Linked DNA regions of Homo sapiens. The protein of the gene in region 2 interacts with the protein of the main gene of each other region in a pairwise test. Each region holds a gene or a part of one and is shown on either strand. Other genes may lie near its edges. The genes, in order: TPM3 and PHLDB3.

Region 1 (4,257 bases), on a different chromosome or scaffold from region 2:
CTATCTGCCTATCTACCTCTAGTGACTGGAAGCTCTCAATAGTGGACTCCAGCTCTGCTCTACCCACTGGCCTGGTGGGTGTCTCCGTTCCCCCATTGCTGGGGCTTAGCATTAACTCTCAGTATCCTGACATAAATGACTAACTAGAGCCATTTATATTTGTCCAATATATCTGGTCACCTTGAACAGTGCCCACCTCTCCCTTGGCATATTTTCAGGTGTATGGTGCCAGTGGACTGGTATCCTTGCCACCTGTTAGTAACAAGGCTCCCAATGGAAGAATAAACATGGTCTGGAACTAAACTGGAAAGAATAGAGCTGATAATGATGATTACGATGATGTGGTGAGTGGCAGCGTTGGGGAGAATTAAGAAGGGAGAAGATAAAGGGAAGAAGAGGAGAGAGCCACACAGACCAAAGTCTGTGTGGGTACAACAGTTCTATTTTAAGATTACTGTGGGAAAACAAAGGGTATGATCCTGTCTGGATTGTTCTGACCCTCCCCTGTTTCTCTCCCCACCCCACTTGAAGCTCTGGGATAGCCTTCAAGGATAGGGTTGGAGATTCCAACCCTACCTCTTACTCTACTCTTGTGGCTCTTGGTGGGGAGGAAAAACGTCTCCCTGCCAATCGGAGACTCCCAGAATAGCACAGCAATTTGATCTGGGGATCTGGGAGAATTGTTAAGGATCATGAGTGACCTCCCCTCTTCCCTGTGCCCAAGCTCCTTGAATACCAGGAATCAAAAGCTAAAACTCAACTAACGGAGTTTGACCAGCATTCAACACAGTCTGGGGGAGAGTGAAACGGGAAGCTGAAAGGCAACCAGGACCCCCTGGATGCAAACTGCCAACCTAGAATTGCCAAAGTACACTTCTCTATTTCAATGTTCTTCCCTCCCCTCTTCCTCTTCTTTTAAAACATCCATAGAGCTGCCCAGAATGAGTGGAAAGTTTCAGGGTCAGGGAGAACCTCTTCCCTCCCCCACTTTCCATTGTCTAAAATCAGCCTCAGCTGTTGCTAGATATTTTTTTTGCTGGTGATGTCAGTTCATCAAAGCGTCTCACCCTGTGTTCCCCCAGGAGAACAATGATGGGGTGGAGGGAGCTGGAAAGACCATATTAGGAACAAAAGGTGGAGCTATGAGCACAGATAAAGACTCAAGTCTGGGGACCTCCTGGTCACTCAGGCAGCAGCCCCTTCTTTCTTGCCCCAGTCTCCAGTTCTCCAGTGTTCACAGGTGAGCCTACCAACAGCCACTGCTCATGATGGAGGCCATCAAGAAAAAGATGCAGATGCTGAAGTTAGACAAGGAGAATGCTCTGGATCGGGCAGAGCAAGCTGAAGCTGAGCAGAAGCAGGCAGAAGAAAGAAGTAAACAGGTAGGCACTGGCATTGATCTCTCTCATCTGCTAGTGAACAAGACTGTGAAATGGAAGGGAGTTTTCATGGGAAAGACAGTGACTACTGGTGTCACCTCCTTTTTGGGGGTGGGATGGACTCCCCAGCCTCACTGGAGGAGCAGAGGATATCTAACATATCTGTCTCAGACTGCCTTTGTGACCTTGGGAAAGTCAGTGAGCCACAGTATGTCTGCTGAATTTAAGTAGAAATGGACCATGTTTTGGAAGAACCCTTGACTTCTAGAGGAAAAGGTAAGAGTTCTAGAGGGAAAGAGCATCTCTTTTCACTCAAATAGCATCACGGGCATCTACACTTTAGATATTTATCATCCAGGGGTCTTGGATGAAAACCCAGGATGGCTTGGTCATCTTAGGATCAGAGATTACAGGGTCACAGGCCAAGCTACGGCATAACTCCTGAGGCAGTGGGCTGGAAGTGGCTGGGGAGAAAGTGTGTCTCACTAGGGATGGTAACATGGAGGTTACACTCAGGGCTCCAAGAGCCCAGGGTCCAACCCTGCATTGTTGTGTTTGTGTGTTTTTGTGTGTGACTCTCTGGGCTCCTATAGCTGGAGGATGAGCTGGCAGCCATGCAGAAGAAGCTGAAAGGGACAGAGGATGAGCTGGACAAGTATTCTGAAGCTTTGAAGGATGCCCAGGAGAAGCTGGAACTGGCAGAGAAGAAGGCTGCTGATGTGAGTATTAGAGAGATGGAGGATGGGTTTAATCTACACATATAGATCTTTATGTTAATGTATGACGAAATTCCAAACACACTTGTGGGTTCATGGAACACAGACATATATACTCACATACATTTTTGCATATAACCACATGCTGGTATATTCTCATAATGGCATGTATTTTCTTTCTTAAAGACATCTCCAACATGTTAAAAGTTTTTTTTTAATACATGTAAAGGTCTCATTTATCTCCTATCACCAACCCAGGAATTTAATTATCTTTCCCAGGACCTGGACAAAGAGAGGGGACTCTAAGTTCAGAATGCTGTCACTTATCCTACCTCCTCCCCCATGCCACATTCTTAGCTTTTATGTCCAAGTCTTGGCATGTGGATATGTGTATTAATAGGGAACCTCTCATCTCTCAACTGTCCAACAAAACCAGCTCGGATTTCACAATGGGAAATGGAGGTCACACTGACCCTGGCCATATATGGGTTTATTTATCTTGGCCAATGCAGGCATTTGCCTTTATGCCATGGAGATGCCATATGAAGCATTGCTCCTAGGGCAGCAGAGAGATCCCTACAGTGACAGAGTATAATAGAAACTAAGAAAGAATCTTAGGGGGTAAAGGTATCACCACCAGACTTCACTCTATGACCGTGAGTAATTACTCAGCTTGTCTAGGGCTGAATTTTCCCATTCTCAAATAAAATAAATTCTCTTTTCCATCTCATATTATCCCATCATCATCACCTACTTTCCTTCATCTTTAACCTTGAAGTTTGCTGCAAAGATAAATGAGAGAGTAGATTGAAAAGTTTTTTAGAAGAAAAGTACCATAGGAATCTTACCAACAACAACAGAAATGTCCCAGTATTGGTGGAAACAAGTTTCTCAGTGAACTGAGTTAATAGGAAAAAAGGAGCATGTAATATTTAAAATCATATTTGGGCTGGGTGCGGTGGCTCACGCCTGTAATCCCAGCACTTTGGAAGGCCGAGGCGGGTGGATCACCTGAGGTCAAGAGTTTGAGACCAGCCTGGCCAACATGGTGAAACCCTGTCTCTAGTAAAAATACAAAAATTAGCCAGGTGTGGTGGCGGGTGCCTGTAATCCCAGCTACTCAGGAGGCTGAGGCAGGAGAATCGCTTGAACCCAGGAGGCGGAGGCTGCATGGAGCCGAGATCGTACCACTGCACTCTAGCCTGGGCAACAGAGAGAGACTCTGTCTCAAAAAATAAGTCAATAAAATAAAATCACATTTGGTTTTGGAAAATAGCTAGAAGGACAGACAGAGTGAACCATTCATAAATGCTTTCGGATCCTCATATTTGGTCTCTCTGCCATCCGGTTTCTTTCCTTTTCTTTTCCTTTTTTTTTTTTTTTTTTTTTTGAGACAGGGTTTCACTCTTGTTGCCCAGGCTGTAATAAAATGGTACTATCTCGGCTCACTGCCATCTCCACCTCCCAGGTTGAAGCGATTCTCCTATCTCAGCCTCCTGAGTAACTGGGATTACAGGCACGTGCCACCATGCCTGGCTGGCTAATTTTCATATTTTTACTAGAGACGGGGTTTCATCATATTGGTCAGGCTTGTCTTGAACTCCTGACCTCAGGTGATCCGCCTGCCTCGGCCTCCCAAAGTGCTGGGATTACAGGCGTGAGCCACCCCGCCCAGCCAGGTTTCTTTTTATTGTTGTTGTTGAGATGGAGTCTCGCTCTGTTGCCCAGGCTGGAGTGCAGTGGCACAATCTAGGCTCACTGCAAGCTGTGCCTCCTGGATTCAAGCCATTCTCCTGCCTCAGCCTTCCGAGTAGCTGGGATTGCAGGTGTGTGCCACCATACCCAACTAATTTTTGTATTTTTTTTTTAGTAAAGATGGGGTTTCGCCATGTTGGCCATGCTGGTCTCGAACTCCTAACCTCAAGTGATCCGCCTGCCTCAGTGTCCCAAAGTACTGGGATTACAGGCGTGAGCCACTGCGCCCAGCCTAAGCCACTGCGCCTGGGCTTTTTTTTTTTTTTTTTTTTTTTTTTTTTTTTTTTTTTTTTTTTTTTTTTGAGACAGAGTCTTGTTCTATCACCAAGGCTGGAATGCAGTGGCAAGATCTCGACTCACTGCAACCTCCACCTCCCGGGTTCAAGTGATTCTCCTGCCTCAGTCTC
Region 2 (3,815 bases):
ACATTTATCTCCGTTTCACAGATGTGGAAACCAAGACTCAGAGAGGTTAAGTCACTCGGCACAAGTCACACAGCCAGAGCTGACAGAGCCAGGACTCACCAGGTAGAGTGGTCACCTCAGATGGTCATACAGGTTGGGGAGGAGGATTTAAGGCAATACAAGTGTCCACTATTTATGAGAGCCTGACCATGAGCTGGTCTGATCCAACCTATTCTTCCCAAATAATCCCTGCAAACAGTGGTATGATTCCGGAGGTCAAACTGAGGTTCAGGGTAGTACATCTCAGATTTCTTCATGCAAGCAGATCCGCTGGGGATTTTGTTAAAATGTTAAAATGCAGACTCTGATTCAGTCATTTCAGGGTGGAGTCTGGAGTAGGGGGAGAGGTTCTGCATGTCTGACAAGCTCCCAGGTGGGCCCTGATGCTGCTGTTCCACCAGCCACACTTTGAGTGTCAAGGAGTTAGAAAACTGAAGCAGGATGGGTGCGGTGGCTCACACGTGTAATCCCAGCACTTTGGGAGGCCAAGAGGGGAGGATCACTTAAACCCAGGAGTTTGAGACCAGCCTGGGGCAACATGGCGAAACCCCGTCTCTACAAAAAATACAAAAATTAGGCTGGGCGTGGTGGCTCACGCCTACAATCCCAGCACTTTGGGAAGCCAAGGTGGGGGGATCACCTGAGGTTGGGAGTTTGAGACCAGCCTGACCAACATGGAGAAACCCTGTCTCTGCTGAAAATACAAAATTAGCCAGGCGTGGTGGCGCATGCCTGTAATCCCAGCTACTCAGGAGGCTGAGGCAGGAGAATCGCTTGAACTCGGGAGGTGGAGGTTGCGGTGAATCAAGATGGCACCATTGCACTCCAGCCTTGGCAACAAGAGCGAAACTCCATCTCAAAAAAAAAATACAAAAATACAAACATTAGCCAGGCATGGTGGTGTGTGCCTAGGATCCCGGCTAATTAGGAGGCTGAGGTGGGAGGATCGCTTGAGCCCAGGAGGTGGGGGTTGCAGTGAGCCGAGATCACACCACGGCACTCCAGGCTGGGTGACAAAGGGAGACCATGTCTCAAAAAAAAAAAAAGAAAGAAAAGAAAGAAAACTGAAGCAAGGCCAGAGCAAGAAGGGATGAGAAACAGAGATGAGATCTGCTGGTTGGAGACAGGAGAGTGAGGTGGGGAAATGAGAAGGATTAGGGAGGAGGGAAAGGAAGGGAGGGAAAGGCCAGGTTTAAAGAGTACCCGCTGGGCCTGCAATCTCCCCAAATCCACACAGAAAGACCAAGGATCACCACTGTGTGTGGAAGCTCCCGCTCTGTGTCAGGCACTATGCCAAGTGGTCACTGTGATTACCTCGTTTCTTCTCCAAAAGAACCCATTAATGTTCCTGCTAGACAGATCAAGAAACTGAGGCTTTAAGAAGAGGTGACTCTCCAAGGTCACCAAACTAGGATGTAGGGGAGCTGGGCCCCAATCTAGGAGGAGACCAGGGATGGGCTTGGGACTCCACCACTGCCCGGCTGTGTCACCTCCACAGAACTCCTGCCCCTCTGGGAGCCTCAGTTCCCTATGCTAAAACACCAGGGTTATCACAGCACTCTCCTCTGGGGCTGTTTCAAGGATGAGCTGGCTGCCCTCAGGGTCTCTCACCTAGAGGTTCCTCTTCTAGGTGTGAAGCCCAGGGACACACTTGCTCACGTGCACAAAAGATAGCAGGGGTGTACGGCAGGGGACAAAGCACACAGCAGGGGACTGTTTAATAAATGATGATGCTAGAAGCCAGGCAGAACACCAGAGCAGGAGCAATTCTGTTTGTTTGTTTGTTTGTTTGTTTTGAGACAGAGTCTCGCTCTGTCACCCAGGCTGGAGAGCAGTGGTGTGATCTTGGCTCATTGCAACCTCTGCTTCCCAGTTCAAGCGATTCTCCTGCCTCAGCCTCTCGGGTAGCTGTGACTATAGGCACATGCCACCACGCCCAGATGATTTTTGTATTTTCAGTAGAGACGGGGTTTCTCCATGTTGGTCAGGCTGGTCTCGAACTCCTGACCTCAGGTGATCTGCCCACCTCAGCCTCCCAAAATGCTGGGATTACAGGCGTGAGCCACCACGCCTGGCCTGTGCTTCGTTTTTAATGAGCACAAGCTTATGCCTAACAATGCAGAAGACCCCACTGCCGTTCCTGCCTTATTTTGCTCCCTGGCTCTTATCAGCCTCTGACATGCTATTTATTTTACATATTGATGTTGCTTTGTGTCCATCTTCCCCCTTAAAACATCAGCTTCCCCCAAAGGTGGGGATTGTTATCTTGGTCACTGCTATGACCCAGGGTCTAGCACACAGTAGGCACTCAATAAATATGGGCTGAAATGAATAAGGGAAGGACAAATGGTGGTAAAAACAAAAAGGTTGGGAAGGATGTGCTTATTTATGAGACAAATTCACAAAATATGGCTTGACTGGTGCATGTGGAAAAGTATAAACACAGATTTGAAGGCTTCTCAGCAGTAGAAGTGAGATCAGGAAGAAAGTGACCACTTTCTTAATACTTTATCTATCATTCTTTTTTTTTTTTGAGGCAGGGTCTCACTCTGTCACTGAAGCTGGAGTGCAGTGGGGCGATTATAGCTCACTGCAGCCTCCACCCACTGGGCTCAAGCAATCCTCCCACCTTAGCCTTTTCCCGAGTAGCTGGGACCAAAGGCATGCACCACCACACCTGCTAATTTTTTAAATTTCTGTAGAGATGAGGGTCTGACTATGTTGCCCAGGCTGTTCTCCAGCTCCGGGACTCAAGTGATCCTCCCACCTCGGCCTCTCAAAGTGCTGAGATTATAGGCGTGAGCTATGGTGCCTAGCTTTATCATTCTTTATAACAAAACGCATTGATTCTATGAATGTTATTAGTATAGGCAAAAATGTAATTTATGTAAGGGAGTTGTCAGCTAAATCAAGAATGTGAAAAAGTCAACAGGATAAATTATTTGATTATTTCCACAAATAAATAGCATTTTCTTTAATGGGGAGGCAGAACTGTTAGAGATTAAAAGATTTAAGAGACATTAAACCAAATGCATAGCGTGTGCTTTGCATATAGATTCAAATAAATCAACTGTGAAAAGATATTTTAGGTCAGGCATGATGGTTCAGGCCTATAATCTCAGCACTTTGGCCAGAAGGGAGGCTCGAGGCCAGGAATTCAATACCAGCCTGGCCAACATAGTGTCTCTACTGTTAAAAATGGAAAACAAGGCCAGGCACGGTAGCTCATGCCTGTAATGCCAGCACTTTGGGAGGCCAAAGCGGGTGGATCACCTGAGGTCAGGAGTTCAAAACCAGCCTGGCCAACATGGTGAAACCCCGTCTCTACTATAAATACAAAATTAGCCAGGCATGGTGGTGGGCGCCTGTAATCCTAGCTACTCCAGAGGCTGAGGCGGGAGAATCGCTTGAACCCTGGAGGCGGAGATTGCAGTGAGCCGAGATTGTAATACTGCACTCCAGCTTGGGCAACAAAGTGAGACTCCATCTTGGAAAAAAAAAAAAAAAAGGAAAAGAAAAATAATAAATAAATTTTTAAAAACATATTTTGGAGACAATGAGAGAAATGTGAATATGGACTATATATTACAATATAATGAAATTAATAATCTCATAAGATGTGACAATGGAATTTTTGTTATGTTAAAAAAAAAAAAAAACTTATTGGCCAGGCACAGTGGCTTACACTTTTAATCCCAGCACTTTTTGAGGCCAAGGCACACAGATCACCTGAGGTCAGGAGTTCAAGACCAGCCCGGACAGCATGGCAAAACCCC

What was found.
Region 1: the proteins of PHLDB3 (region 2) and TPM3 interact in binary tests that used the Homo sapiens proteins (3 or more experiments, as listed by UniProt).

Annotation. Positions count from the first base shown.
Region 1 is NC_000001.11:154,189,027-154,193,283, reverse strand, and holds the start of TPM3 (tropomyosin alpha-3 chain), read left to right. Parts: upstream 1-1,183; 5' UTR 1,184-1,265; coding exon 1,266-1,382; intron 1,383-1,550; exon of another isoform or gene 1,551-1,655; intron 1,656-1,972; coding exon 1,973-2,098; intron 2,099-4,257. UniProt on the Homo sapiens protein: Binds to actin filaments in muscle and non-muscle cells. Plays a central role, in association with the troponin complex, in the calcium dependent regulation of vertebrate striated muscle contraction.
Region 2 is NC_000019.10:43,480,722-43,484,536, forward strand, and holds part of PHLDB3 (pleckstrin homology-like domain family B member 3), read right to left. Parts: intron 1-3,815.